Regions from separate parts of the Homo sapiens genome. Here regions 1 and 2 are each linked to region 3. The links come from fine-mapping of genetic effects on gene expression. A gene starts in region 3. Each other region holds a variant in brackets. All regions are shown on one strand. Distances are from middle to middle.

Region 1 (11,009 bases), 83 kb before region 3:
AAACTTAGACTTCCACACAATAATAGTGGGAGACTTTAACACCTCACTGTCAATATTAGCTAGATCAGCGAGACAGAAAATTAACAAGGATATTCAGGACTTGGACTCAGCTCCGGACCGAGGGGACCTGACTGACATCTACAGAACTCTCCACCCCAAATCAACAGAATATACATTCTTCTCAGCACCACACAGCACTGATTCTAAAATCGACCACATAAATGGAAGTAAAACATTCCTCAGCAAATGCAAAATAATGGAAATCATAACAAACAGTCTCTCAGACCACAGTGCAATCAAATTAGAACTCAGGATTAAGAAATTCACTCAAAACCACGCAACTACACGGAAACAACCTGCTCCTGAATGACTATTAGATAAATAACGAAATTAAGGCAGAAACAAATAAGCTCTTCGAAACCAATGAGAACAAAGACACAACATACCAGAATCTCTGGGACACATTTAAAGCAGTGTTTAGAGGGAAATTTACAGCACTAATGCACACAGGCGAAAGTGGGAAAGATCTAAAACCGACACCCTAACATCACAATTAAAAGAACTAGAGAAGTAAGAGCAAACAAATTCGAAAGCTAGCAGAAGACAAGAAATAATTAAGATCAGAGCAGAATTGAAGGATATAGAGACATGAAAAACACTTTAAAAAAAAAATCAATGAATCCAGGAGCTGGTTTTTTGAAAAGATTAACAAAATAGACCACTAGCCAGACCAATGAAGAGAGAAGAATCAAATAGACACAATAAAAAATGATAAAGTGGATATCACCACTAATCCCATAAAAATACAAACTACCATCAGAGAATACTATAAACACCTCTATGCAAATAAACTAGAAAATCTAGAAGGAATGGATAAATTCCTGGACACATACACCCTCCCAAGACTAAACCAGGAAGAAGTCGAATCCCTGAATAGTCCAATAACAAGTTCTGAAATTGATGCAGTAATTAATAGCCTACCAACCAAAAAGAGCCCAGATGGCTCACAGCCGAATTCTACCAGAGGTACCATTCCTTCTGAAACTATTCCAAACAACAGAAAAAGAAGGACTCCTCCCTAACTCACTTTATGAGGCCAGCTTCTTCCTGAAACCAAAACCTGACAGAGACACAACAAAAAAAGAAAATTTCAGGCCAAGATCCCTGATAAACATGGACGCGAAAATCCTCAATAAAATTCTGGCAAACCGAATCCAGCAGCACATCAAAAAGCTTATCCACCATGATCAAGCAGGCTTCATCCCTGGGATGCAAGGTTGGTTCAACATATACAAATCAATAAACATAATCCATCACATAAACAGAACCAATGACAAAAATCACATGATTATCTCAACAGATGCAGAAAAGGCTTTCAATAAAATTCACCTTCATGCTAACCACCCCTTCATGCTAAAAACACCCAATAAACCAGGAACAGTTACGGAATATATGGAATAGTTATGGAATAGTTATGAATAGTTATGGAATAGTTATGACAAACTCATAGCCAGTGTCATACTCAATGGGGAAAAGCTAGAAGCATTAACTTTGAAAACCGGCACAGCAGAAGGCTGCCCTCTCTCACCACTCCTATTCAACATAGTACTGGAAGTTATGGCCAGGGCAATCAGGCAAGAGAAAGAAATAAAGGGTATTCAAATAGGAAGAGAGGAAGTCAAATTCTCTCCGTTTGCAGTTAACAAGATTGTATATTTTGAAAACTCCATCATCGCAGCCCCAAATCTCCTTAAGCCGATAAGCAACTTCAGCAAAGTCTCAGGATACAAAATCAATGCGCAAAAATCACAAGCATTCCTACATACCATTAACAGACAATCAGAGAGCCAAATCATGAGTGAACGCCCATTCACAACTGCTACAAAGAGAATAAAATACCTAGGAATACAACTTACAAGAGATGTGAAGGACCTCTTAAAGGAGAACTACAAATTACTGCTCAAGAAAATAAGAGAGGACCCAAACAAATGGAAAAACACTCCATGCTCATGGATAGGAAGAATCAATATCATGAAAATGCCCATACTGCCCAAAGTAATTTATAGATTCAATGCTACCCCCATCAAGCTACCATTGACTTTCTTCACAGAATTAGAAAAAAACTACTTTAAATTTCATATGGAACCAAAGAAGACCCGTATAGCCAAGACAATCCTAAGCAAAAAGAACAAAGCTGGAGGCATCATGCTACCTGACTTCAAACTATACTACAAGGCTACAGCAACCCTAAACAGCAGGGTACTGGTACCAGAACAGATACATAAACCAATGGAACAGAACAGAGGCCTCAGAAATAACACCACACATCTACAACCATCTGCTCTTTGACAAACCTGACAAAAACAAGCAGTGGGGAAAGGATTCCCTATTTAATAAATGGTGTTGGGAAAACTGGCTAGCCATATGCAGAAAACTCAAACTGGACCCCTTCCTTATACCTAATACAAAAATTAACTCAAGATGTAAGACTTAAACGTAAGACCTAAAACCATAAAAACCATAGAAGAAAACCTAGGTAATACCATTCAGGACGTAGGCATGGGCAAAGACTTCATGATTAAAACACCAAAAGCAACGGCAACAACAGCCAAAATTGACAAATGGGATCTAATTAAACTAAAGAGCTTCTGCACAGCAAAAGAAACTATCATCAGAGTGAACAGGCAACCTACAGAATGGGAGAAAATTTTGCAATCTATCCATCTGACAAAGGGTTAATATCCAGAATCTACAAGGAACTTAAATAAATTTACAAGAAAAAACAAACGACCCCATCAGAAAGTGGGCAAAGGATATTAACAGACACTTCTCAAAAGAAGACATTTATGCGGCCAACAAACAAATGAAAAAAAGCTCATCATCACTGCTCATTAGAGAAACGCAAATCAAAACCACAATGAGATACCATCTCACTCCAGTTACAATGACGATCATTAAAGAGTCAGGAAACAACAGATGCTGGAGAGGATGTGGAGAAACAGACACCTTCACACTGTTGGTGGGAGTGTAAATTAGTTTAACCATTATGGAAGACAGTGCAGCAATTCCTCAAGGAACTAGAACCAGAAATAGCATTTGACCCACCAATCCCATTACTGGGTATATACCCAAAGGATTACAAATCATTCTACTATAAAGGCACACACACACATATGTTTACTGCAGCACTATTTACAATACCAAAGACTTGGAACCAACCCAAATGCCCATCAATGATAGACTGGATAAAGAAAATGTGGCACATACACACCATGGAATACTATGCAACCATAAAAAAGTATGAGTTCATGTCCTTTGCAGGGACATGGATGAAGCTAAAAACCATCATTCCCAGCAAACTAACACAGGAACAGAAAACCAAACACCATATGTTCTTGCTCATAAGTGGGAGGTGAACAATGAGAACACATGGACCCAGGGAGGGGAACATCTCACACTGGGGCCTGTTGGGGGCTGGGGGCAAGGGGATGGATAGCATTAGGAGAAATACCTAACGCATGTGGGGCTTAAAATCTAGATGACAGGTTGATGGGTGCAGCAAACCACCATGGCACATGTATACCTATGTAACAAACCTGCACGTTGTGCACATGTATCCCCAGAACTTAAAGTATTAAAAAAGAAAAGAAAAAAGAGAGAGACAAGAAAAAGAAAAACAACCCTATTAAAAAGTGGGCAAAGGACATGAAAAGACACTTCTCAAAAGAAGACATTCATGCAGCCAACAAACATAAGAAAAAAAAGCTCAACATCACTGATTAGAGAAATGAAAATCAAAACCACAATGAGATACCGTCTCACGCCATTCACAATGGCAATTATTACAAAGTTAAGAAACAGACCAGGCGCAGTGGCTTACGCCTGTAATCCTAGCACTTTGGGAGGCCAAGGTGGGTGAATCACGAGGTCAGGAGTTTGAAACCAGCCTGGCCAGCATGGTGAAACCTTGTTTCTACTAAACAAAAAATTAGCTGGGCATGGTGGTGCACACCTGTAGTCCCAGCTACTCGGGAGGCTGACGCAGGAGAACTGCTTGAAATTGGCAGGCAGAGGTTAAAGTGAGTCATGTTAGTGCCACTGCACTCCAGCCTAGGCAACAGAGCGAGACTCCATCTCAAAAAAAAGAAAAGAAAAAGAAAAAAAGAAAGAAACAATAGATGCTGGCGAGGTTGAGGAAAGACAGGAATGCTTTTACGCTATTGGTGAAAATGTAAATTAGTTCAACCATTGTGGAAGATGGGGTGGCAATTCCTCAAAGAGCAAGAACCAGAAATACCATTTGACCCAGCAATCCCATTACAGGGTATATGCTCAAAGGAATATAAATCATTATATTACAAAGACACACGCACATGTATGTTCACTGCAGCACTATTCACAATAGCAAAGACAAGGAATCAACCCAAACCAAATACCACATGCTCTCACTTGTAAGTGAACAATGAGAACACATGGACACAGGGAGGGAAACAACACACTCTGGGGCCTTTCACAGGGTGGGGTGGGGGGAAGGGGAGCATTAGGAAAGATGGCTAATGCATGCTGGGCTTAATACCAAGGTGATGGGTTGACAGGTGCAGCAAACCACCATAGCACATATTTACCTATGTAACAAAGCTGCATATCCTACATATGTATCCTGGAGCTTAAAAATTAAAATGAAATAAATAAATAAAAGTCCTTCAATCCCTAATATAAAAAATTTGATATCTGTTAACATCACCTTTTAAAATCCTAACCAGGAATTCCATTTTTTATAACACTGATTAAATTACATAATGTTACTCTTAGAGAAACACCTTAGAAGAAAAATAGCAGACCCATTTGAGATAAAAGACATGTTCTCCTGTTGTCTTTAAATTATAGCAATGTACTTAGTAACAGAAAAGAAATCCATTTCCTAAATTTAGACGCTGCTTCTCCCAACTTCTCACAACCATGAGAACACCAAAGAAAGGCATGAGAAACTAACAAACTATAATGAGCGTGTACATTATTATTTGAGGGGAATGGGATGGAGATCATTTAGAAATGCTTTTGGCTTTTCGCAGCTCTAAGTGTAAAAATTCAGTTCCTAGAAAACTGTCAGTTGCTAATAAAGAATCTCAGAACTCTAACAAGTGATACTACCGTGTCATAAAAAATAAATCACAAGATACACTTTTTGGTGACAAAATCTTTTGAGTTTCTTAACATTATGGGGTAAAATGGTTGTGAGTTTATCAGGTCTTTTTGGCCCTATAAATCATAGTACATGTTATAAGTCATCCTCTTAATACTAATGTATCAATTTTTATCACAATTCATTTGGTAAACAGGATAATTCTGCAAAGTATTGAAAATTGCAAAGTTCTGAGCCAGCAACAAATTAGATTTCCACCCACATGGTGGTTAATCAGTCCCATGTACAGAGAGAAAGGAAACTGGATATAATGATTCTAAAAGCATTTTAAAGAATGTATTAGTGAACAACGAATCCTCAATGCCTGACACCTCGATGGTTTCCTGAAAGCACCAGTGAACCATGTAGCGTATATCCCAGTTAGCATGTTCAGCAATCAGGGGTTGTTACAGAGCTTACCAGTATAACAGCATGTATACAAGCCACACACAACAACTCACAGAAGCTCA[C/G]AAGCCTCCCCACACCTTTGACTCTAATCCTCCTCCTGCAAAAATAGAAGAAAAAATATGACAACAGACATGTGAACACAAAACTGAAACTGAACAGAAAAGGGAAGATATTAGCTTAGATATGAGACATAAGAAAAAGTATGCTCCAGAATCTTTTTAAATCAAGAGGCATTGTGGGAGGCCCCCAAGATTCCCACTCCCTGATGTACCCGCCCTGTATAATCCTCCCCCATCCAGTGTGGATGGGACCGTGAACAGGACAAAGACAAGTCCTGTGACGAAGTTACATTTAATCAGAAATATGAATGGATTCTGCAGATTTAATTAAGTTCCCCCATCAGTTGGTTCTGAGTTTATCAAGAGGGAAATTATCGTGGATGGGCTTGACTTCAAAGGTGAGTTCTTAGAAAAACCAGCCCCTTCCTAACAAGATCTGAAGTGTGAGAGATTCTCCTGCTGGCTCTGAAGAAATAAAATTTCATGTTGTAAAAGGGCCTATGGAGGGGGCCACATGGCAAGGACCTCAGAGCAGCCTCTGGAAGTAAAGTGTGGTCACCATCCAATCGCTAACAAGAAACAGGATCCTCAGTCATACTGCCACAAGGAAATGCCATCTGCCAACCGCCCTGTGCATTTGGAAGAGGACCCTAGCCTCAGATGAGATCACAGTCCCTGCAACACCTTGACTGTCACTGTGTGAAACAGTGAATGGAGAACTCAGCCACGCGGTCCTCAGACTGCTGCTGTAGAGACCCATGAGATCATCAATATATGTCACCTTAAACCACTAAAGTTGTGGTAATTCATTACACAGCAACAGAAAGCTAACAATCATCTACTGCACCTCTAGACATTCCCCTAAGTGATCCTGATGTTACATGACACTTGAAGTTACTCATTTCAATGGAGTGAAAAATGTGGGACATTCTAGTTAAGTGATCTTGACTGGCAGTTAAAGTTTCAGAAGTCCTACAATATTTTCTGACTTACAGCCTAATCTTACCTGGAAGGCATCTTGCTGATTATCTGATCCAGCCACCTCACTTTTAGCCAAGACTAAGAGAGGGAGCTAGCCTCCCCAGGTTCACAGGGCTAACGAGCAGCAGAGGACGAGCCACAGCCCAGTTCCTCCAACACAGTTAGCTGTTCCCAGAAGTCTTTCCTTAAAGGTGGCTGCGCCTTAAAGATACTTGCAGTTGTGCTTGACTAGAGAGGGGGAGAGAAGTATATCTCCTCTCTGATACTGTAGTAAAATGGCCATAAAATAAATACTGAATGCTTTAGAAAAGTGGAGTACAAAGCCAATATTTCAAAGGATTCAAAGACTAAAAGCAGTATTAAAGATGTCAACAGTGACTAGACCATGATAACTACTATATTATAATGTCTTCTGCATCTTTCAACCTCCCAGGGGACATTTAAATTGTCACTACTCACGGGAGGTGCTCCTGGTATCTAGTGGGTAGAGGCCAGGGATGCTGCTACACAGCCTGGAATGCAAAGGGGGGTCCCCATGGACACAATCCACAGCCCCTTAAACTCTGCTCTAAGGCATCAGTTATCTTTCTTTATCCCTGCTGACTCCCTAGCACTGAGACACTGAACACATGGCGTGCACCACCTGTGCTCCCTTACACACTCAGAAGGCAAAGCTCTCCCATATCTCAATTTTCTTTGGCTTGGGCTTTAATCACTGTTCTTTGGTTTGAACTTAAATATGGGCTAACCTTTTCACCAAGTTGTATCTAGCTCTAATACACAAGCACACCTGCCCAGCTCAATGTTGCTTCTGACAGACAAAGCCAAAACACTATTATGCATACTTGATTTTAACTAATGTATGTTTTACACATGAATCAAAATCTGGTGACCTATCAGCAAAGGCCTAGTGGAGTATGAGTGTGCAGAACACATGGTGGAGAACCGCTGCTTACTCTAAACTGCTGGCAGCAAATAAGTATTACATGACCCAAAAAAATGATATCGATGACTAGAATGAGAAAAGTGTCAAAACAACAGGAAGTGGCAGGGACTCTGATGACATGGAGAGCAGTTTCTGTCAAAACAAGCAGCCGCTACTCTGTTCTAGACAATTACTGCCATGCAGAAATGTAGGCCCACTATGACCAGATACCCAGATTGTCCAAGAAAACTTGGATAACTGGAGTTGTATATGAAACCACTCAATTTTAACATGTTAGCTTGTAGTTTGCAAAAACCTTGAGTCCAACATTTTGGGCCACGTCTTTGAAATTTATGGTCTAGAGATTGTAAGAGCAAATGAAGAGGTGCCAAGTGGGCAAATTCAGAGGGAGGAAGGTTCAGGATATACTTCTGCACAACAGATGGAGTATTAGAGACACTGGGGATAAAGCTAAGTGATAGGCCTTGGATGAGGCCAACAAGTTTCAGAGGAGCTGCTAGTGATATTATCATCATTATCATCACAACAATAATCATAAATTATAACATTTATATAGGACTGTATTTCAGGCACTGTCCTAAGCACTTCATATGCAGGAACACATGTAATTTTCCCAACAACCTTATGAGGTTGGTATTATTGTTACTCTCATCTTACAGAGGAACAAAATAAGTCAGTTTAAATAACTTGCCTAAGGCCACATGGCTAAGTACTGGAGCTGGGATTTGAATCCAGATAGGCTACCTTCAGACTCCATGTTTCTAATTACCCCCGTCACAATTCTAATGCTTGTATCTGTAGGCTTTTAATTCTGTATCTCTCTGTAACTACATATAAAATGTGTTTCATCCACCTAAGTTCTGAATGGTAACATGTAGATAGGAAAAGACTAAAACAATGCTTAAGGTACTCCGTCTAAACACGTATAGAAATGGAAGCATTTTTCCCAAATGAAAATGTTAGCCCCTGCTCTCTATAAATTATGTTGGCCTAGTAGGATTCAGTCCCTCTTGTTAAAGTTTTACTTTCTAATGACATTCTTGGCTTCTGCTTACATAAAAATACTAACAAACAGATGCAGAAGTCACACTCTCCGGCATGGAAGTCAAAAGGCATAGACGAATTGGTTGTGCCCTCCAACCAGAGTGGGAACTGTGGCAAACAATTCTAACGCCCATCAAAGATGCAAGGCATGAACTTGTCCTACACACTGTGGCAGCATTATTACTAAATTCCTTAAAAAGTCTGTATAAAAATCTGTAACAACTTGGCAAGCAAAATTACACTTCAAAGCAGCTAGTATGTAAATTAACTTCACATTTCACTTCATTTTAAAACAAGAGAAATTGCTATAATAAATTCAGGGAAACTGGCAATTTTGAGTTGAATACTAAAAAGAAAAGTAAATTTTCACCTTTACATGAGATCTACTATTTTTTATTCTTCATGAACCCTATCTTCCATTTCAGAATCCAATTATTTGAGGACACAATGAGTTCTATCATCATTTTATTCTGGCAGGTCAAACACTGGTCCAATATTATAAAAATGCATAGACTTTATTGAGACATAAAAAGCAACAAAGTATTTTCAATGCCGTAATTCCCAAATCTGCTTAGAAATCCAAACAAGTAATTTTTAAGTAGAATTTTAAATTGTGTTGGAAAAAACAAAAAACTCTGCATATACAGAAGCATAAATACAGATTAACAAGTGAATGCAACAAGATACTAAAATATAATACACGTGTTAGCAATCATTTTGAAGAAAGCACTAAAAATATCAGTACTAGTCCACCTCCCTTTAGTATATGCTACAGTCTAAAATATTTATATTTCCTTCTTTCTAGAAAATTATACTGCTCAAACTTTTTTTCATGAAGCAAAAAGGAAAAAGTCTCTCTCAAAATGCTATGCAAATATGCAGAAACCATGACATTATCCCTAGGAGGATGTATATAAATCCTTATTCTGTTATGGATCTTAAAAACAAAAAACGAGCATCAGCGACACCACCACCAAAGGACTCTTTAAGAAAGTACTTTTAAGATTTTAATTGTTCAAAATTGTTTAAGACAAATAGGAAAAGGTAATTTGAAATATATGCAAAGAACAAGAAATTTTACTTGTGGCTAATTCAATTATTTCCTTTGGAAAAGAATAAAGTTCAAATCATATTGCCAATGTCACTATAACTAAAATCTGACCATTACAAAAGGTCTCCCAAACTGCAGTCAATGGCCTGCTCACTTCAAGTAATATTGGTAATGGCTAAATTCCAGTATAACACCAAAAAAAAAAAAAAAAACAAAACAAAAAAACCCTAGCCTAGAAGTCCACTGGAGTTCACTGTAACGGGATTTAAGCTATAATTAAATTTGATTAGCTTGGTTCAAACCTCAAGTTCAAAAGACTTATCAGCATGAATGGATGAAAAACCCTTTTACACGGGCATTTTGAAAATATGAAAAGGGCTGACACAGCAAGCTTCAAAGACTTTAAAAGCAATTGACCCTTCCCAGAGCAAAGGAGAAACGCTAACAGCTGAAACTCAGATGCTGCGTGCAAAGAAAATAAAGTTCCAGATGGCTCAAAAGCCTGGTAGTTTATTAAATATTAAATACTATTATTTTTAACTGGATTTTTGCCCAGAGATAGCCAAATATGTCACCCATAAAATGTGAAAAAGCAGTATGATACCATCCCCTGAAAAACTGAAGCAAATAAATATTTTCTTTTTCAAAAACTACCCGCATGTGGAAGTTTCTCAAGGAGTTATACAAACAACCATGACAGTCAAACAATCAAGACGTTTAATAAAAAACAAAAACATCTATAACCTAAAAATCCAAATCAGTTTATTTCGAGACATTTAACTGTTACTCTATAAACACACACCTCATGCACACATACCCCCTTGGATCACATTATATTTTCATGCATGAAGAAAGGAGAAAAGTGAAAGAAGCAATAATAAATATGGACTACGGAACTGTGTTAGTGACTGGGGGTTAACATAGTTTTTACAAGTAGTTAAATATTAGTATGAAAGGATTATATATACAAAAGTTTGTTTGCCAAGCACATCGGCTCACACTTATAATCCCAGCATTTTCGGAGGCTGAGGTGAGCAGATCACTTGAGGCCAGGACTTCAAGACCAGCCTGGCCAACACAGCAAAACCCAGTCTCTACTAACACAAAAATTAGCCAGGCATGGTGGCACACATCTGTAGTCCCAGCTACTCGGGAGGCTGAGACATGAGAATCGCTTGGAACCCAGGAGGCGGAGGTTGCAGTGAGTCGAGACTGTGCCACTGCACTCCAGCCTGGGTGACAGAGGGAAACTTTGCCTCAAAAAAAAAGTTTGTTGTATGTATTCTTTTAAATACATACATGGAAATGGGTGCATATACACGCACATCAAATGAACTG
Region 2 (11,009 bases), 160 kb before region 3:
TGAGTTGTAGTGTAGATGAAGTATTCTCAATAAAGCTGCTTTTAAAAAGAAATATAATTTATATATCATAAAAATTTACCCCTTTAAAATATATAAATTGATGGTTGTTATAATAGTCACAACTGTGTAACCATCACTATTATCTAATTTTAGAACATTTTTATCACCACTAGAAGGATCCCCATACCATTAGTAATCACTCCCTATTCTCTGCCCCCAGGCCCTTGATAGCACTAATCTCATTGTGTCTCCATCATTTGCCTATTCTGGGCATTTAATATAAATGGAACCATACAGTATACGGTCTCTTGTAACTGGCTTTTCTCACTTAGCATAATTTTTAAGCATGTATCAGTACTTCATTCCTGTTTTTCATGGCTGAATAAATGGGTTTACATTTTATTTATCCGTTTATCAGATGATGGACATTAGATTGTCCCCACTTTTTGGCTATTATGAATAATGCTGCTGTGAAAATTCATATACAGGGTTTTGTGTGATTCTCTTGGGTACAAACCTAGGAATGGAATTGCTGGGTCATACGCTAACTCTGTGCTCAGCTTTTTTGAGGGACTGCCAAACTGTTTTCCAGAGTGGCTTCATGATTTTACATGCCCATCACCAATGCATGAGAATTCCAATTTCTCCCCATTTTTGCTAGCATGTGTTATTAACTGTCTTTTTTATTTTGGATGTACTCGTGAGTGTAAAATAGAGTCTCATGGTGGTTTTGATTTGCACTTCCCTAATGATTAATGATGTTAGGCATGTTTTCACCTGCTTATTGGACATACATATATATATATATCTTCTTTGGAAAAACAGCTATTTAAATCATTTGCCAGTATTCATTTGTCTTTTCAATGTTTAGTTGTAAAGTTCTTTATGTATTCTGGATATGAGACCTTCATAAGATACATGTTGTGCCAATATTTTCTCCCAGTCTGAGGGAGGGCTATTTTTCATTTTCTTGATAGTTGAAATGCAAAAGTTTTTAATTTTGGTGAAGTTCAATATCTCTATTTTTTCTTTTATTACGTATGCTTTTGATGTCATATCAAAGAAACTATTTGCCTGAGATAAGGTCACAAAGATTTCCTCCTTTATTTTCTTCTAAGAGTTTTATAACCTTAGTGTTACAAAGCCCTTTGATTTTATTCTTTTTCAAAATTGTTTTGTCTATTATGGATCCCTTGCCATTTCCTTACAATTTTTTGGATCAGCTTGTCAATTTCTGCAGTAAAGGAAAGTGGGATGTGGGTTGCATTGAATCTATAGACTAATGTGAGAAGTATTGCCATCTTAACAGTATTAAGTCTTCCCAATCCATGAAGATGGGCTGTCCACCCTTTTTTCTTAGCTTCTTAAAAATTTCTTTCAGTCATGTTTTGTCACTTTCAGTGTACACATCTTCAACTACTGTTAAAGGTATTTCTGTTTTTATTCTTTTTGCTATTGTAAATGAAATCCTTAATTTCACTTTTGGATTTTCAAAAATGAAATATTTATTGCAAGTATACAGAAATGTAATTGAATTTTGTATCTTGATCTTGTATCCTGCATATATGTTGACATCATTTATTCTAAGTTTTTCAGTAAATTTCTTAGGATTTTCTTTATATGTGATCATCATGTCATTTGCAAAAAGGTAGTTTCACTTCTTCATTTCCAGTCTGGGTGGCTTTCATTTCTTTCTCTAGCCTGTTGCACTGGCTAGAAGCTCTAATACAAAGAAGAGTGAATTTGTGAGAGTTTTGGTGGGAAATCATGAGACATCCACCTAAAAGTCCTAATTTGGCTCCATCTGACTTCTTTTTAGTTATTATCTTTAAAAATCTTTAAAGGGCACCCAATTTTCTTCAATTAATAATGTAAAAAAGACTGCATTGATATGTCCCAGGACCCTCAGTTCTTTAGGGATGGACTAAATGGCTGGTATCATCACTCAGGAGAGTTTCAAACTTGATGGAGGTTATGTTGAGAAATAAAGTTTATAATTCGGTTTTCCATGAACTTTTTGAAGTCCCCTCATAGTGTTGTTGAAGTCTTCTGTTTCCTTGATCTTCTGACTAGTTCTATCCGTTGTTGAAAGTGGGGTATTGAAGTGTACAAACTATTATTGTTGCACTATTTCTTCCTTTAATCTGGTCAGATTTTATGTTTTGTGGCGCTCCATTAGGTATATATGTATTTATCATTTTTACGTGTTTCTGATGCATTGACCCTTTTACATTATAAAATATTATTCTGTCTCTGTAGTAAAAACTCCTGTCTTAAAGCCTATTTTGTCTGTTAGTAGTATGGACACTTTAGTTCTCTTTTGGTGACTGCTTATTTGTATCTTTGAATCCACACTGTGTCTCTTGTAGGCTATAGCTGGATCATAGTTTTTTTTATCCATTATGGTAATCTTTGCCTTTTGATTGGAGTGTTTAATTCATTTTCCTTTAATGCATTTACTAATAAGGTAGAGTTTGCCCCTTATTTCTTCTATGTGTCCTATCTTTTTGTTTCATTGTTTTTCCAATACTGACTAGTTTTTTTATTGAAAAGATATTTTCTGTTGTACTATTTTAATTCCCTGTTTTTTAAATACACGGGTATTTTTTAGTTATTTTCTTAGTTTTGCCCATAGGAATTAAAATTAACATCTTACAACAATCTAGTTCAAATAAATAATGAAATTAACTTCAGTAATATGCAAAAATTATGTTCCTATTAAGATCCAGTTTTATTCCTTTGTGTTACTGTTGTCGTACACATTACATTTTCATTAAGCCCATCAACACAGCCTTATAATTACTGGTTTATGTAGTTGTCTTTTAAATCAGGAGACGCGAGTTACAAAAATACACGTATCCTGTGTGTTGTATTACCTGTGTAGTTACCTTTAATGGGATTTTTTATTTCTTGGTGTGGATTGGAGTTGCTATATGATGTCCTTTCATTTCAGCCATACTAAATACTCTCCTGGATTTCTTGTGGGGCAGGCCTGATAACAGTCAACTTGCTCTGTGTGTGTTTAAAATAAAAACATCGGAATGTTTTAATTTCCCCTTCATTTTTGAAGGATAGGTTTTTTAATACATAGAATTCATAGTTGAACGTTTTTCTTTCAGTAATTTGAATATCTTCCTACTGCCTTCTGTTCTCTGTGGGTTCTGGTAAGAAATCAGCCGTTAATAATAATGAAGATCCCTTGAATGTGATGAGTTGCTCCTCTTTTGCGTTTTCAAGATTCTTTGTCTTTGGCACCTGACAGCTTGACTATGATGAATCTGCGTTTGGATCTTTGAATTTACTCTACTTGGAGTTCATTAAGATTCTTGGATGTGTGGCTGCACATTTTTCATCAAATTTGGGGCCATTGTTTTGCAGATACTTTTTCTCTTCCTTTTTCTTTCTTCTCCTTCTTGGACTCCCATGATTTGTATGTTGTTGTGCTTGATGCTGTCCCACAAGTCTCTGTGGTTCTTTTCATTTTACCTCATTCTTTTTTCTTTGTTTCTCAGACTACATAATCTCAGTTGACTGTCTCAAGTTCCCTGCCCCCTCCTTCTGCCAGCTCAGTTCTGCTGTCAAGCCCCTCTAGTGAATTTTTCATTTCAGTTATTGTACTTCTAAGTTTCAAAATTTCTACTTGGTTCATATCTATAATTTCTCTTTATTGCTATAAAATTTTCTCATACTTTATCCTTTTTTTTTTTTTTTTTTTTTTTTTTGAGACAGAGTCTTGCTCTGTCACCCAGGCTGGAGGGCAGTGGCGTGATCTTGGCTCACTGCAAGCTCCGCCTCCTGGGTTCATGCCATTCTCCTGCCTCGGCCTCCCTAGTAGCTGGGACTACAGGCACCTGCCACCACACCCGGCTAATTTTTTTTTTTTTTTTGTATTTTTAGTAGAGACAGGGTTTCCCCATGTTAGCCAGGATGGTCTTGATCTCCTGACCTCATGATCCTCCTGCCTCAGCCTCCCAAAGTGCTGGGATTATAGGCGTGAGCCACCCCACCTGGCCACTATCCTTCGATATTTTTTTTAAGACATGGTTTCCTTGAGGTGTTTGAATATGCCTATAATTGCCGATTTAAAAAGTTTATTTAGTGAATCTAAGTCTGGGCTCCCTCAGAGACAGTTTCTGTTGACTGCTTTTTTTCCTGTTTGAGTGTTTCATAATATTTTGTTGAAAATTGGGCATTTAAAATAAAATAATGTGGCAACTCTGGAAATTGGATATTCCCTTTCTCCTCCCCCAGGATTTGCTGCTGTTGCTGTTTATTGTTACAGCTTGCCTAGTGACTTTTCCTGGACAAAGGCTATATAAAGTCCGTCCCCTTAAGTCCCTGCTTGTTTAGTTTAGTGGTTAGCTAATGGTTGGACAGAGAAGTCACCACAACCACTGTCTCCTATCCTTTACCGACGGCTTGTGTGTTTGTGTTGGGGTGTGCCATCACTTCCTATTTGTGTAGACAGTCATGCTCAGCCACAGGTGACAAATGAGGACCCCCTCACGTCTTTCCTGGGTGTGCACATGGCCTTGCACCTGCATGTGGCTGTCTAGATCCCCAGGAATGTATTGGACCTTTTCAAAGCCCACCATTAACACTGTATTCCCCACATTTTCCTTTATAGTTTTTTGGCCAGCTGCTTGTTTGCCCCATGGGTATTGTCCCCTCAGACAGCTGCGCTGTTGAACAGTGGCTACTGATTGTTGTAGTCATGTGCCCTGGGGCTAGGGCTTCTCCTGCTCGGCAAACTAGATCAGGGCAAATCAATGCAAATCCTGTGAATGGGGCTTTCCGTGTTGCTGCCAGATAGGCCACATGGTGTCAGTTCTGAGGATGGGGCTTTTGGGGAGCCCATTCTGACCCTTGAGTGGTTGCTAGGCTGCTGGGTTTCAAGGCTACCATGGAGCTGGGGAGGGAAGAATGGGGCTTTGGATAAGTTAAAATACCACAAAGCTCACATTTCTGAGATGTTGCTATTTGCTTGAATCAACAATCCATGGATTGTTGTAAGCCTTTGGTTTTCCAGAATTCTGAAAAAGTTGCTTTTGACCATTTTTCCAGGTGTTTTCCTTGTTTTAATGGAGGTGCAGATTTTTGGAGGTCCTTATTCTGACATTTTGGAAGTGTTTTACACCCCCTCCTTTTGGAGTAAGGTTTGTGGGTAAGATCTCTGCAGTCATGACCAGTGGTGCCTGACTGTTTTGTGTGAAAGTCAGCAGGCAGAGCCAGTTGTCTTAAGGAAACTGCCGGCTGGCTGGTTTGAGAACTGAGAAGTGGTGGGTTAATTTCTAATCAAGGAGTGTGATCATAAAGGTGATCAGTACTCACAGACTTCTAATTAGATGAGGTCAGATGTCCATGGTGCAACTCTTACGGCATCTGGTTGGTGGGGCTGAGGATGCACAGGGACCTCAAGCTCTGGTTCCTGCTTGGTGTCTGTGTCAGTTTCTGTTAGCATGAACAGCAGCTGGTTCCTCTGTGTACCAAGAACCCAGCGCTTTACAGTTGACCCTTCTCTCCCCAGATGACTTCCTGAAGCCACAGATCATCACCCAGCCAGAAACCACCATGGCTATGGTGGGCAAGGACATCCGGTTTACATGCTCAGCAGCCAGCAGCAGCAGCTCCCCCATGACCTTTGCCTGGAAGAAAGACAATGAAGTCCTGACCAATGCAGACATGGAGAACTTTGTCCACGTCCACGCGCAGGACGGGGAAGTGATGGAGTACACCACCATCCTGCACCTCCGTCAGGTCACTTTCGGGCACGAGGGCCGCTACCAATGTGTCATCACCAACCACTTTGGCTCCACCTATTCACATAAGGCCAGGCTCACCGTGAATGGTATGGAAACACCATCTTTGTTATAGTACCAGAATCCTACAAAGCACACTCCTGATTGCCCTTTCAGCTTTCCATGTAGAGATGACTGAGACAGGACACACACATGCTTCTGTGGGGCACTGTTAAATCCTATTGTTGCCTGGGTTTGCCCCAGAGCAAGTTTTGCAGATTTCAAGGGTTATTCACAATGAGTTACTTGTTTTTGGTGAGTTTTAAAAATCT[A/C]GTTATTGGCCGGGTGCTGTGGCTCATGCCTGTAATCCCAGCAGTTGGGAGACTGAGGTGGGCAGATCACTTGAAGCCAGGAGTTCGAGACTAGTGTGGCCAACATAGTGAAACCCCGTCTCTACTAAAAATACAAAAATTAGCCAGGTGTGGTGGCACATGCCTGTAATCCCAGCTACTTGGGAGGCTGAGGCACAAGAATTGCTTGAACCCAGGAGGTGGACGTTGCAGTGAGCCGAGATCACTCCACTGCATTCCAGCCTGGGTGTCAAAGTGAGACTGTCTCAAAAACAAAACAAAAACTAGTTATTAAGTCAAATTGTGGAGAGCTAAGCCTTGTTTTGTCCAGTTCTTATCCTCTATAAGCCAAGAGATCTGGCTTCCAAATTCCAAATACCCCTTAGCCTGGGGAAGCTGCTGTTCTTTGAGTAGATGGCACAGCATTGGAGTCAGAGGCTAGCTACTGCTCCAGAGACTGTGGAGTGCAAGGCTGGTGTGAGCCCTGGCCTGAAAGACACAGTGTCCTGGCAGTTGACAGGTTTTTACTCATTAACCAGCCTTGGAGCTTGTCAAGGGGACCATGTGTTATTGTGTGTTTGGAGGAGGGGGGTGGGGAGTAGATAGCTTGAAGAGTTTACTGTCCCACCCCAGTAACCTAATGGGGTTATCCTGATTACTAACTCTCTAGTTAAAAAGAATTGGCTTGAGAATCATCAGAATGGTGGATCTGCTTTGCTCTTTAAGCCCCCACAGATCACAGCGAAACACCTTCTTTACCACACTGTAGTGGGGTTGTCTTGGCTTATTCCAAGTCCTCACAGCTTCCGAAAGACTCAGCTGTTTGTTAGACTCTCCCCAAAATTGACGTTGACAGGAACTCTGGTGGTGCCTGACACGTGGCTGGATGCGTCCCACTCTGTCAGGACATCGATCTTTAGGCTGAGCAAGCTAGCAAGCTGAATGCTTCCTGCCTGGGTATACGGCAGTGGGCAGGAACAGCCTGGGTGAACAACCATCCAAATGGATGAGCCATCCCATTCATCCCATGAACACCCATCCAAACGGATGAGCCATCCCATTGCTCTCCCAAGGTGGAGGCATGCCCACCTTCCCTCTGTAATTCCATCTCCACAGCCTCTCTCTTGGTGGGTAAAGCAGGCAAGCATCAGGCCTACCTAGTGTGGATGGGCACCCCCTGCAACTCCCGTATAGGCACTGCCATGTAGAGTAAAAGCCTTTGCTTTGAAGGGACTATAGCCAGCCTAGGGTGTACAATGCAAGGCTGATGGGATGGAAGTGTTCCAACTGTGGTGGGAGAAGCTGGGGGTTCCTGATTCACAGGTGGCAGGAGTGGTCCTGGGCAGACATTGGGAGAAAAGAAGTGAACTGGCACTGGGCACAGTGACAGGTAGGTGTTTGCCAGAGGACTTCCTGGTTTTGCATCTAGCTGTCCCGTAACCCGACCCTGTATACGTATGTTTTCCAGTGTTGCCATCATTCACCAAAACGCCCCACGACATAACCATCCGGACCACCACCATGGCCCGCCTCGAATGTGCTGCCACAGGTCACCCAAACCCTCAGATTGCCTGGCAGAAGGATGGAGGCACGGATTTCCCCGCTGCCCGTGAGCGACGCATGCATGTCATGCCGGATGACGACGTGTTTTTCATCACTGATGTGAAAATAGATGACGCAGGGGTTTACAGCTGTACTGCTCAGAACTCAGCCGGTTCTATTTCAGCTAATGCCACCCTGACTGTCCTAGGTTTGCCTATTGCTCTACTGTGTGTGTGTGTGTGTGTGTGTGAGCGAGAGAGAGAGACTCTCAAATGCTCTGTGTGGCCAGGGGTGGTATGCGTTGTGGGCCTTTCGACCCTGTTTGAAATTTGGGGCTGCTTTTTGAGTTGAGTTAATTTTTCTTAAACAAGTGTTTCTATCTCTTTAAAAGAAATGATAGCTGGTGAATTAAGAGTCTTCATAGGGTTTAGCTACAGAACATTTTAAGAATTGGACAGGATGGATGTGGGCTTGGTCAAGAGCTACAGAACATTTTAAGAATTGGACAGGATGGATGTGGGCTTGGTCAAGAATAAGGACACAGGCCTGACACAGGACAGTTAGGGAATAGCAGGGGCTTTTGTCAGCAGAGGTTCACTGTCCCTGTGGAAGCCACTCCCAGCATGGAGATGACTCAGTCAATGAGTTGAAGGGTCTTCTCCAAAGCTTGCCACTCTGAGACAGAATCTCAGATGCATCTCATTGATATGTTGGATTGTCCGTTGTCCAGAAGACCGGGCAGAGCCAGAGCAACGGAGGCCCTGAGAATGACTAAGATCTCTGTTGCTCTCTTGTAGAGACCCCATCCTTGGTGGTCCCCTTGGAAGACCGTGTGGTATCTGTGGGAGAAACAGTGGCCCTCCAATGCAAAGCCACGGGGAACCCTCCGCCCCGCATCACCTGGTTCAAGGGGGACCGCCCGCTGAGCCTCACTGAGCGGCACCACTTGACCCCTGACAACCAGCTCCTGGTGGTTCAGAACGTGGTGGCAGAGGATGCGGGCCGATATACCTGTGAGATGTCCAACACCCTGGGCACGGAGCGAGCTCACAGCCAGCTGAGCGTCCTGCCCGCAGCAGGCTGCAGGAAGGATGGGACCACGGTAGGCATCTTCACCATTGCTGTCGTGAGCAGCATCGTCCTGACGTCACTGGTCTGGGTGTGCATCATCTACCAGACCAGGAAGAAGAGTGAAGAGTACAGTGTCACCAACACAGGTCAGGCCCTGCCAGCGGAGCTGACTTTCAAGGAGGGAGGAATGGCAGTGATGCTGGGGAACTGGGCCGGGTTCCAGTGGCTTTTGAAAGAATTGCACTGTGTTCAGAACTCCTGAGGGTTTAGTCCCACTAATTCCATTTTAACTTTGAGGAACTTAACCTTAAACAGGAATACTCTCAAATTTAACCTTAAACAGGAATACTCACAAATACAAGTAACTGACGCACCATGCAGTTTTCCCTCTCCTTGCTAACTCAGAGGCCGCCTATGCACAGGCCCTGCTGCCACGTAGTAGGTTGTTCCTGAAACAGTGCGGTACTTCTGTGAGCCCCGGCTTTCCATCACTGGTCTCCACTTCTTGTGGCGTCTGGCATCTGCTGGCTGCGCTCTTCACGCTGGGTGTAGAGTAAAGCTGAGCAGGCTCTGGGAGGGCCTGTTGCGTACATGGACTCCATGTCATCTCTCTGCACAGCGCTGATGGTCGTCACTGGGAGGATCCCCTTTCTGAGCTTGACAGTGAACGTGTGTCTGCATTTCTTGTCACTGAGACCCTGGTGTTCTATTTGTTCTGTCTCCTTGCAGATGAAACCGTCGTGCCACCAGATGTTCCAAGCTACCTCTCTTCTCAGGGGACCCTTTCTGACCGACAAGAAACCGTGGTCAGGACCGAGGGTGGCCCTCAGGCCAATGGGCACATTGAGAGCAATGGTAAGGCCTCAGTAACTGTGAAGCAGAGCTCTGCTGTGACTGTGTCTCTGGGTGCTGGAGGTGGCCTCCAGGTCTTTACAGGGCAGGTACCTGGCATTAGATGGGGCAAACTTGGTGAAGTAGAAGGCGGTATGACTAAGGGCTGCTATTTTGGACCCAGTCTTCATGAGTTCTGCAAGGTTTTAAAGTCCTGTCCCCTCAGGAAGCCACTGGATTGGGCTTAGCATCTCCCTGGCAGGATAAAGTAGGCTTGCCTGGAGTAGCAGCTGGAAAGGGCATTACGGTGCATGAACCCAGCCAACCCATTCCTTACATGGGGAACGTGCCCAGGTCTGCTCTGTGATCCAGTCTTACACTGGAAAGCTGTCACCAGGATGAGGTACTTCCAACGGTGGGGGCCTCTGAGCACTTGCCTGAGACTGTAGAGGCTCACCCTGAGACAGCTGCTCATTTCACAAGGCCAGCCTGCCTGCTGGGAAGTAGTAGCAGAAAACACGCTGCTTGCCAGACCAGCAGCCCCACCGCTCTGAAGAACTTTTTAAAAAAAATGACTGTTCTAGCGGCCTTGCTCATTCCTTTCATAAGGCTTACTGTGAAATACCAAGCCCAGAGTTTCTAATCGTGTTGGAATCCACTTGCAGGTGTGTGTCCAAGAGATGCAAGCCACTTTCCAGAGCCCGACACTCACAGCGTTGCCTGCAGGCAGCCAAAGCTCTGTGCTGGGTCTGCGTATCACAAAGAGCCGTGGAAAGCGATGGAGAAAGCTGAAGGGACACCTGGGCCACATAAGATGGGTATGAGATGCTTCCCATTGGAAGTAGTTTCTTTCTGAAATGGAAATTTGGGCTGACCTAGTCACTACATCAAAGGGGGAGACACATTCCTAGTCCACAGCTGTCTCCAAATTTGGTATTCAGTATATACAGGGGAAGCTCAGGCCTGGCTCTCTTAATTCCAGGATAGTTTCTCCTAAATAAATCTACGCCATGGTAAGCCTGAGCATGAATTTTCTAGATGTATAAGCAACTTAAATAAGGGGCAAGGCACAAACGAAGTATAGAGTTTCAGTCAGCACTTTTTCACCAGGGCTATTTTGAGGCTTATTTCTAATTGTTGAAAAGACCCAACACTGCATGGTACCTAAGGCTAATGGCTTTTCCCCCGTGAAGCAGTAAGACTACATTGTCTATGAAATTCACTGTAAACACGAAAGACCCCACAGTTCATGAGTGACTTGGTGTTTGCCCAGTCCTTTCTCTGGGGACATAGTTGGGGAAAAGAGGAAGCATGCATACAGTGTTTGCAGTCAGGGTTCTCACCTTGCACAGTGGAGCTGAGCAGCCTGTCCTCTGTGTGGGGACGAAGACTCCCACAGCAGTGACTCTAACCCATCTTTGGCGCTGTCCTTCAGAACACGGTGGCCGGGTCGTATGCAGTGACTGCAACACCGAAG
Region 3 (11,009 bases):
AGGAAAGTAGTTGTGATGAAAAGGATGAAAATGTCCCAGACTAAGTTATGTCAGCAAGTCTTCGCATTAAACGAACTCACAACATTGAAAGCACAAAAAATAAAATGTTAGAAGTTGATCCAAACTGAGAAAGCAGTATGACAACTTGCCAAGGCATAAAAAGATGCTTCTTCTATAATACATAATGAGAACACAAGCAAATGTTCAAACTACTGTTGATAAGGTTTTGTCCAAAAAATTAAGTTATTAATGTTTCTAATGTTTTTAATTACAGTGTACTAAATAAACATCAGCTTTGCAATTTTTCCCCTATATATTACAACCAAAGCGTTTTTAATGTTTTGACAAAAATTCTTAGGGTGGGCCAGGTGTGGTGGCTCATACCTGTGACACCTCTTTCTACAAAAAAAATTTTCTAAAAACTGTAAGAACAACATGGGCTGGGCTCAGTGGCTCATGCCTGTAATCTCAGCACTTTGAAGCTGAGTCAGGAGGATTGCTTGAGGCCAGTACTTCAAAACCAGCCCTGGCAACACAGCAAGACCCTGTCTCTACAAAACAAGAAAATTTTTAATTAAAAAATTAGCCAGGCGTGGTTGGTGCATGCCTCTAGTCCCAGCTACTCAGGAGGCTGAGGTGGGAGGATCACTTGAGCAGAGACAGCACCACTGCACTCCAGCCTGGGCAACAGAGGAAGACCTTGTCTCAAAAAAAAAAGAAAAGAACGCACATGAAATGGTTTGGCTCTGGGTCCCCAACCAAATCTCATCTTGAATTGTAGCTCCCATAATTCCCACATGTTGTGGGAGGGGCCTGGTGGGAGGTAATTGAATCATGGTGGCAGGTCTTTCCCATTCTGTTCTGGTGATAGTGAATAAGTCTCACAAGATCTGATGATCTCATAAAGGGGAGTTCTCCTGCATACGCTCTCATCTGCAGCCATGTAAGACGTGACTTTGCTCCTCCTTTGCCTTCTACCATGATTGTGAGGCCCCTCTGCCAGCCATGTGGAACTGTTAGTCCATTAAACCTCTTCCCTTTATAAATTACCCAGTCTTGGGTATGTCTTTATCAGCAGTGTGAGAACAGACTAATACAGGAAATTGGTACCCACAGTAGGGTGCTACTATAAAGATACCTGAAAATGTGGAAGCGACTTCAGAATGGGTAACAAGCAGGGGTTGGAACAGTTTGAAGGGCTCAGAAGACAGGAAGATGTGGGAAAGTTTGGAACTTCCTAGAGACTTGTTGAATGGCTTTGACCAAAATGCTGACAGTGAGATGGACAATAAAATCCAGGCTGAAGTGGACTCAGATGGAGATGAGGAACTTCTTGGTAACTGGAGTAAAGGCCACTCTTGCTATGCAAAGAGACTGGCAGCATTTTGCCCCTGCCCTAGAGATCTGTGAAATTTTGAACTTGAGAGAGATGATTTACAGTATCCGACAGAAGAAATTTCTAAGTGGCAAAGCATCCTAGAGGTGACAAAGCATAAAAGTTTGGAAAATTTGCAGCCTGATGATGCGGTAAAAAAGAAAAACCCATTTTCTGGAGAAAAATTCAAGCTGGCTGCAGAAATTTGCATAAATAACCAGGAGTCAAATGTTAACTGACAAGACAGTGGGGAAAATGTCTTCAGGGCATGTCAGAGACCTTCATGGCAGCCCCTCCCATCACAGGCTCTGGAGGCCTAGGAGGGAAAAAATGATTTCCTGGACTGGGTCCAGGGCCCCCTTGCTGTGTGCAGCCTCAGGACTTGGTGCCCTGTGTCCCAGCCATTACAGCCGTGGCTAGAAGGGGCCAAGGTAGAGCTCAGGCTATGGCTTCGAAGGATGCAAGCCCCAAGCCTTGGCAGCTTCCACATGGTGTTGGTACTGTGGGTGTGCAGAAGACAAGAACTGAGCTTTGGGAACCTCTGCCTAGATTTCAGATGATGTACGGAAACGTCGGGATGTCCAGGCCGAGGTGTGCTGCAGGGGTGGGGCTCTCCTAGAGAACCTCTACTGGGGCAGTGTGGAAGGGAAATGTGGCTGCCCCAGTAAGGAGTCCCCACCAGGTCACCACCTGGTGGAGCTGTGAGAAGAGGGCCACTGTCCTCCAGACCCCAGAATGGTAGATCCACTGACAGCTTGAACCCTGTGCCTGGAAAAGCTACAGACACTGAATGCCAGCCCATGAAAACAGCCAGGAGGGGAGCTGTATCCCACAAAGCCACCATGGGAACCCACCTCTTACAGCAGCGTGACCTGGATGTAAGACATGGAGTCAAAGGAGATGATTTCAGAGCTTTAAGATGTGACTACCCTGTTGGATTTCAGACTTGCATGGGGCCTACAGCCCCTTCATTTTGGCCAATCTCTCCCATTTGCAATGGGTGTATTTACCCAATACCTGTAACCCCATTGTATCTAGGAAGTAATTAACTTGCTTTTCATTTTACAGGCTCATAGGCAGAAGGGACTTGCTTTGTCTCAGATAAGACTTTGGACTGTGGACTTTTGAATTAATGCTAAAATGAGTTAAGACTTTGGGGACTGTTGAGAAGGCATGATTGGTTTTGAAATGTGAGGATAGGAGATTTGGGAGAGGCCAGGGGTGGAATGATATGGTTTGGCTCTGTGTCCCCACCCAAATCTCATCTTGAATTGTAACTCTCATAATTCCAATGTGTTGTGGGAGGGACCTGGTAGAAGGTAACTGAATCATGGGGGCAGGTCTTTCCCTTGCTCTTCTGGTAATAGTGAGTAAGTCTCACAGGATCTGATGGTTTTATAAAGGGGAGTTCCCCTGCAGCACATGCTCTCTTGTCTGCCACTATGTAAGACATGACTTGCTCTTCCTTTGCCTTCCACACAACTGTGAGGCCTCCCCAGCCAAATGGAACTGTAAGTCAATTAAGACTCTTTCCTTTATAAATTACCCAGTCTCAGGTATCTTTGTTAGCAGCATGAGAACAGACTAACACGATGTAATCCTACCACCAAAAATACTTAGTGCTATTTTGGAGTATTTCAATCTGGCTTTTTTTCCCCATGAATGGAATAGGTTTTAACATAGCTTTAATTAGGTACAAGCAAATATACATACATGCAATGTTTTTCTCTTAATTTTATCTCATAAGCATTTTCCATGTAATTATAGTACATTCTCTTCACAAGCACTATTTTTTATGGCTGCAGACTAGTCCAAGAAATGGGTTTCCCATTGTTTGTCTAATTCTTCCCCTCTGTCCCATGTTTTAGCAGCTTCTTACTGTCTTCACTGAGTTAAATGTTATTTATATAAATATCTTTAGGTTGCTAATACATAGTTCCAGTTGCTTTCCTAAAAGTATGCACTGATCAATGTACTCTTTGAGGATTTTGTTTCTGGATACCCCACTCTGTGCTCCAAATGATAACTAACATCCCAGAGGCTCTCCACTTATTCAATCCTCTTCATGAAGCTTTAGGAAGGGAGCATTTCAATGTCTGCTACTTGCCAGGCTCTGCTCTGTGTGTTTAATGTTACCTCATTTAATTCTTCAAATCCAAGTTTCAAGACTTCAGCAATCATCTAGGCTTTTCATTCAAAGTAGTACTGAGTGCTTACCTAGTGCCAGGTACTGGTAAAAGAGTAGTAAGCAAAACCAAACTCCCTCAGGAGTGTTCACTGTGTCTCAAACGCACTCCAAGACATTAAAAAGTAGCCACTCCATTTCCGTACTACTCTGATAATAAAACATTTCAATGGCTTCCATTACACTACAAATGAAATCCAAATTATTTTCCCTAGCCCATAAAGCCCCACCTCAGCTGGCTTTGCCTACCCCTCCCATACCAACCCCTGCCATGCTATCCTTACCCATTAGGCCTCACCACTTGAAAACTCTAAGCTCTTTCCACTTGAGCCATTCCCCATGACTGAACCTCCCACTCTGATCATCAAAAATTCAAGCCCCTTCCTATCTTTTAGGTCTTAGCTGAAATGTTACCACTTCGTGGCTTTCCTTGGTCACTCCATCTAAGAGGTTCACCAATATTTGCCTACTCTGTCGCATCTTCAGTTCATTTCTTTCATAGCACTTATTCATTGCAACTGTTTTATCTGCTGGCCTTTCTTCCCTACTTGAAATGGGGTTATCTGCCACTGTATCTACAAAGCCTACCACAATACCCAGTGGGCAGAATAGATGGAAGAAAAATTGTGTGCTGAATGCATAAATAAAATGTTTTTCCTTTACCTGGAATGAAATCTAGTTTCTTGAAACTTCCACCTATTGATTCTAATTTTACCCTCTATAAATACATTGGGAAAAAAGTATACTTTACTGCATGTGTATCATACTTTAATTAAGTATATACTAAATCCATTCTTTTGTTAACTGCAGCACTCACCTGTGTTTTAGCAATTGCAACCTTTGCTGACTTCGGAGAGTATCAAGAAGCAGATAAGGGCACGACTCCCAGGTGACATCACCTGGGTTGGAATATGAGCTCCAATACTTACACAGACGAAATGGATCTCACTTGTGTGATTTTGAACTAGTTATCTAATCTCTTGGTATCCCACTTCCCTCATTTGGAAAATTAGGATAAGAGTTCAATTATTGTGAGAATTAAATGGGATAATGTATGTAAAGAGCTTACCCCAGTTCCTGGCACAGGAATGTTAGCTGACAAACTACTGCTGCTGTGTCACCAGCTAGACAGGAAAGCTCCTTAAAAGCGGTAACATTGGCCAGGCGCCGTGGCTCACGCCTGTAGTCCCAGCACTTTGGGAGGCCGAGGCGGGCGGGATCACGAGGTCAGGAGATCGAGACCATCCTGGCTAACACGGTGAAACCCCGTCTCCACTAAAAACCCAAAAAATTAGCTGGGCGTAGTGGCGGGCACCTGCAGTCCCAGCTACTCGGGAGGCTGAGGCAGGAGAATGGCGTGAACCCGAGAGGTGGAGCCTGCAGTGAGCCGAGATGGCGCCACCACACTCCAGCCTGGGCGAAGAGTGAGACTCCTTCTCAAAAAAAAAAAAAAAAATCAGTAACATTATTTCTTTATATTTCTAAGACCTACCTTATACAAGTTTCAACAAATCTAGATTTAAAGCTATCATCCTACAAGTCTGGCTAAGACATCCCTACTTCCATATATTCCCCTAACACCCTGAACCTAGCCCACCTGTTATTTATCCCAACAGTCATTTTACTATTTTGTCTCTAACACCTGACCCTTAGGAGCAGGTCTATCTTGTTCACCATGTTATCCTCAACACCTGCAACACCAAAATTCGATAATTAAGTGACTAAATCACTGTGGGCCTCCATTTTCCCTATGAAAATCATTTTAAAAATTATTTGTCTGTCTCTGCCCATTCCACACAATGAAAACGTAGGCAGCCAAACTCTGTTTTGTTAACTGCTGTATCTAGTATCCTCTACCAGACGCTCCAAAATATTTGGTAAAGGACTTTTTTTTCTGTTAATTCATGTTGATTCTCGTAGTTTTCTGCTACGGAATTAAATACTAAGCCTGTTTATTGACTCCGCAGCGTTCCCGATGAGCTATGTGTGCTCACCAATATTTCTCCAAAGCCTAGGCTTGGAGCAGAAATAGCAGATTATGTATTGAATGAACAGAAGGACATGTCATTTTCTAAGACTGAAAAGAGATGCAGCAAAATGAGAAACGTAGTATTGAATAGAAGGGCTGGGAGCGATGTGAGTAAGGTTTTTGTTGTTGTGTTACATACATTTCTTTAATTCCCAAGATCTCTAGAGTAGTTACACTATTTAATGAAAGAGTAGTTAACAGTGTATAATAGAAGCTCTTTTTTAAGTAAATGAGGGTGCAAAAGACAATGACTCACCTTCCTTCCCCCACCTGGCTCTTATGACCTGGCAGTACAGACATAGCCTTAACACCTGGCCCGCCGGTGGCCTGGGAGCCTCGTGCTCCCTCTCAGACCTGGCTGCCAGTAACCCGAGGACAGTCCAGCCCGCAAAACCGGAAGAAAACCAGTGCAGAGAACGCCCGCGGGCTCCAATGCCGGACGCCGGCACTCTGAGCAACCCACCCCACCGCCCCGCACTCACCACCAGCGCTGCCACGAACCCCGGCCGGTCCATGGTCGCTCAGACCTCGTCAAGGCTACAATCCAAGCCGGAGCAGAAGCGGATCACGTCCTCGCGCGCTGGGCGCCGCCATGTTTGAGGCGGGTCTGTCTTGAACTTCCGGGACCACGTGACGTAGAACCACAACAACTGCACGTGCAACGCGAGACACCTGGGCCTAGGGGAGGGCCAGAGAGGAGGGGCGGGGCCTCGGGGAGTGTGGTGGAGCTAAGTCTCGGCAAATCCCTTACCTCGGTTTCCTGCAGCAGCGTTGTGTGCAGCTAGACGGAGGAACTTTCGCGAGCAAAAGATCCGTGGCCGAGATCCAGGAGAGAGCAGCGGTAGAATGAGGCCGGCGTGATTCTGAACTGTAAACCCAGAAGAGGCGTGGCTGTGGCGGAGGGAGGAGTCGTGAGGGGTAGTACTAACCTCGGGAGGCGCGATTCGGGATCCTAATCGGATATTTCATTTTGGTTTATCTCTTAGTTTTGTCAAAAAATTTTATCTGAGTTTATATTAAATTAACTCATTATCAGAAGATTATTAAATAAAGATATAGAAAAATACATCAGAAGTTTCCTGACCGGAGTTAAAAATTAGCATCCTCCATTTCTCTTTACAGAGTTACTGCATTTAAAATTATTTGTTTGTTCAGTTATTTACCTGCTCATGTTGTTCGCTGTTGTACTCATGTGTACACCTCAAAGCACACGTTATTAAGTACTTAATAACATTTCTTGGAGTGGACCTGTCTTTATTAAACAAACAAATACCTTGTAAACTTCTGTATATATTAAGGGCCAACTACATCTCAGACGTGGTGCTAAGTGATTGACAGACATTTTTTCATTTAATCCTTTCACCAACCCTATGATGTCAGCAACACTAGTGTCCTCATTTTACAGAGGCTCCTGATGCTCCAACAAGTAACCGACTCAATGTGGCTACAGAGAACACAGCAGAGCAAGCACTGAAAATATACTTAATGCCCTCATCATCTTTCCTCAAAACCGTTATAATAACCTGAGCAGGCTCCTTGCCTGGCCTTTCTTCAATCCCTATTCTATAACACTGCTAGAATTATTCTTATAATTATTCTTATTCTCTTCTAGGTAAAATGATCTAGAAATGATACGCAGAATAGCTTTAGGTGTTAGATGGAATTCAAATTCTATCACCTGCTGGGTTTGGGGATAAGTTTTCCAAGATTAAGTTTTCTCCCCTGTAAAGTGGCGATAATGATAGTCACTTTGTCATGCGGTACTATTATATTAATAGATTAAATGAGATAATGCACTCAAGTTCTTAGCCTAGTTCCTGGCTCATAGAAAGTACTCTCTAAAGGTGATGGTAATGTTATTTCCCTGCTTACAACTCCCCTCTGCTGCCAATGGAGACAGTCCAGCTCCCTAGCATGGTATACACCTCTCAGCTGGTGTCTCCTGTCACTCTTCCCACTAGCCGGACTACACACAGACAGACTATACACTTCCAAGCCTCCTAATTTTGCCCATGTTGTTCTCTCTACCCAGAATACCTTTCCCTAAGCTGCCTGTAGGCCCTCTCAAAACATGCTAGTTCACTTTGTCAATGCCAGCAGAAGAATCTCTGTTGCTGCTATTAATGTCTTTCAAAGTCTCATGTGCTTTGGTCAGGCCTACCCAGGATAATCTCCATTTTTATTAACTCAAAGTCAACTGATTAGAGACCTTAATTATATCTGAAAAATTCCTTTTGCCATACGTGACAACATAATCATGGTGGTAATGTTCTGTCATACTCACAGGTCCTGCTCACAATCAGTGGGGTGATTATGCAAAACACATTAGGGGCCAGGAATCTTGAGGGCCACCTTAGAATCCTGCCTACTTCACATTCCTATAAACCCTCACCGGCAGCCTCCTCAAAGGCCATCAAGTTTCTATTAATAAGCTTTCACTGACATTTCCCTCACAGTCTTCCCACCTTTCACCTACTGCCTGGTGCCAATGGCACTCCCACAGTTTAGGAATTACAGTAGCGCCCACCTCCAAGTACCAAAATCTGTATTATTTGTCTATTTCTGCGTAACAAATTACCCCCAAAATTTAACAGACTAAAGCAACGATAAACTTCTATTACCTCACACAGTTTTCATACGTCAAGAATCAAGGAGTCATTTAGCTGGGTGTTTAAGACTCAGAAATTTTCATGACACTACAGTCAAGATGGTGGCCAGGGCCATATCATAAAACTTGATCATGACCGCAGGATCCAATTCCAAGATGGCTCACTCCCATAACTGGCAGATTAGTGCTAGCTATTGGCAGGTAGCCTTAATCCCTCATGGCATACATCTCTCCATAGTACTGCTTGAGTGTCTTCATGATATAGTAGCTGGTTGTTCCTAGAGTAAGTGGTCTGAAAGAGAACAAGACAGAAACTACAAAGTCTCTCATGACCTGTTCTCATAAATTACTCAGTTGTCATTCCAGCAATAGTCTATTGTTTACACAGGTAATCGACATTTATTATGGGGCTGGACTACCCAAAAGCCTAAATACCGGAAGATGAGGATCACTGGGTGCCATCTTGGAAACTGGTTACCACATCAGGGAAATGCCGGTGAACACCACAATGAGATATGAATACACTAGAACTCACTAGAGTGGCTAAAATTAAAAAGCCAAGTGTTGACAAGGATGAGAAGCAACTGGAAATCTCATACATTGCTGTTTCGAATTTTATATGGTACAACCATTATAAAATCCAATGCCACACTTAGGTATTTACCCGAGAGAACTAAACATTTATACAAATACTTTTACATTATATTTCAAAGCAGCTTTATCCATAATAGTCAAAAACTGAAAACAACCTGAATGTCTATCAACTGGTGGTATAAACATATTATGATACATCTTTATAATGGAACATCACTCAACAATAAACGGACATGAATTACTGATATATGAAACAACATGGATTAATCTGAAAGCATTATGCTATGTGAAAAAAAAAAGACCACATGTATTGTGATTCCACTTACGTGAAATTCTGGAAAAGACAAAATTATAGTGACAGAAAGTATATAAATGCTTTCCAGGCGGTGGAGGTAGAGGCAAAGTATTGACTATGAAGTGGGCACAAAACAATAGTTTGCAATGATGAAGATATTCTCTTGTTATTATTGTGGTAGTAGTCGCATGGGTGTGTACATTTACTAAAACGCATTGACTTGCACAATTAGAATGGTTGTACTTAGTATATATAAACTATAAGGCTGGGCGCCGTGGCTCATACCTGTAATCTCAGCACTTTGGGAGGCCAAGGTGGACGGATCACCTGAGGTCAGAAGTTTGAGACCAGCCTGGCCAACACAGTGAAGCCCTGTCTCTACTAAAAATAGAAAAAATTAGCTGAGTGTGGTGATGCGCGCCTGGAGTCCCAACTACTCAGAAGGCTGAGGCAGGAGAATCGCTTGAACCCGAGCGGTGGAGGTTGCGGTGAGCTGAGATTGTGCCACAGCACTCCAGCCTGGGTGACAAGAGCAAGACTCCATCTCAAAAAAAAAAAAAGTATATGTAAATTATAGCTCAATAAAGTTGATTAAAATATTACTATCTCGCAGGATGATGAGGAATAAATAATATATGCACAGAAAGTTTTAGTCCAGTGCTTGTCATATAGAAATATTCGGTTTATTCCGTATTTTCCTATTTAAGTTAGAGATTCTGAATATTATGAATGAGAGACTGATAAGTTATCAAGGTGCATAAGTACTTTGTGATACATACTACTATAGCCTCCTAAGTGAAAATAAATCTTATTTCTAGCTACTAATGTTCCTGGAAGTTTTTGATGTAATTCCTTCCCTAAGAGAAAATTTAACCTAGACTTATACCTTTAATTTTGATTTAATACATCCTTTGAAGTAAAATTAAGAAAAAAATTCCTTTCCTCTTCAATGCAATGGTTGTCTTTAACTTTGCAAGAAAAAATTGTGTTGATGTCATTTTCTGGTAACTTGGAGGGAAATGTAATTTATCAGGTATCTTTCAGAATCAAGAAGAAATACATAGTCTCTCCTTTTATGCAAGGTAAAGGCTTTACCAGGTATTTCATGATACCACTGGAATCCTTTTAGGAAATACAGATATTACAAACATGACCTAGGGCTTCCTTTTCATGAAATGCTAGCAGAAAGACTCATTACTACTTGTGCATGCTTTTTAAATGGAGTATTTCAATGCATCATCATTATCACCACATTGCAGGCAGCATATGTTCTCAAATCTTTCATTTTAAAAGATACAGGCAATGTGGTAAGCACTGATTTGCATTACACATGTGATATTATAATAATCCTGTCTTTCTCACTTAAATCTATCACTGTAAGCCAAGTTTTCTTTTAAACAAGCTCTAAAATCTTAATAGTATTTATAAAAATTAGCAAGAAACCAAAGACATAGCTCAAAAAATAATTTAAGCCTAGCACAAAAAAAAAAACAAAAACAAAAAACAAGGACATAATCTTCAACCAGGACTAGGCTTAAGTTCCAAGCCCCGTTACTGTTTTGTTTGTTGTTGTTGTTTTTTGTTTATTTGTTTGTTTGTTTTAAGACAGGTTCTTGTCCTGTTGCCCAGGCTGGAATGCAGTGGTGCCATCTCGACTCACTGCAGCCTCAACCTCCGGGTTCAAGCAATCTTCCTGCCTCAGCTCCTCAAGTAGGTGGGACTACAGAGGCATGCCACAACACCTAGCTAATTTTTGTATTTTTAGTAGAGATGGGGTTTCACCATGTTGCCCAAGCTTGTCTTGAACTCCTGAGCTCAAGCGATCCACCCACCTCAGCCTAGAATTATAAGTGGGAGCCACTGCGCCCCATTCCATGTTACTGATTTTTATTGAAAAATACGATAGTATTTGTTAAGATCTGA

Evidence for each region. PIP is the estimated chance that this variant, and not a neighbour inherited with it, causes the effect.
Region 1: its variant is fine-mapped to the expression of SLC25A26 in whole blood (TOPMed, PIP 0.97).
Region 2: its variant is fine-mapped to the expression of SLC25A26 in lung (TOPMed, PIP 0.92).

Annotation. Positions count from the first base shown.
Region 1 is chr3:66,299,131-66,310,139 of GRCh38, reverse strand. The region is part of intron 5 of SLC25A26 (solute carrier family 25 member 26); the gene reads right to left. Among named protein-coding and RNA genes, the nearest start is that of SLC25A26, 84 kb to the right of the region's middle. The variant C/G (reference allele first, on the strand shown) is at 5,653.
Region 2 is chr3:66,380,820-66,391,828 of GRCh38, reverse strand. It overlaps LRIG1 (leucine rich repeats and immunoglobulin like domains 1), which reads left to right. Exons shown (of 19, transcript NM_015541.3): 13 at 5,528-5,848; 14 at 7,557-7,838; 15 at 8,428-8,847; 16 at 9,431-9,556; 17 at 10,198-10,350; 18 at 10,968-11,009. Among named protein-coding and RNA genes, the nearest start is that of LRIG1, 110 kb to the left of the region's middle. RefSeq lists enhancers at 4,777-4,836, 4,867-4,946, 4,957-5,126, 5,587-5,686, 8,133-8,632 and 1 more. The variant A/C (reference allele first, on the strand shown) is at 6,071.
Region 3 is chr3:66,216,190-66,227,198 of GRCh38, reverse strand. SLC25A26 (solute carrier family 25 member 26) reads right to left here and starts at 6,198. Exons shown (of 10, transcript NM_001379210.1): 1 at 6,072-6,198. The coding sequence starts at 6,104. RefSeq lists enhancers at 5,575-6,074, 6,196-6,255, 6,426-6,585.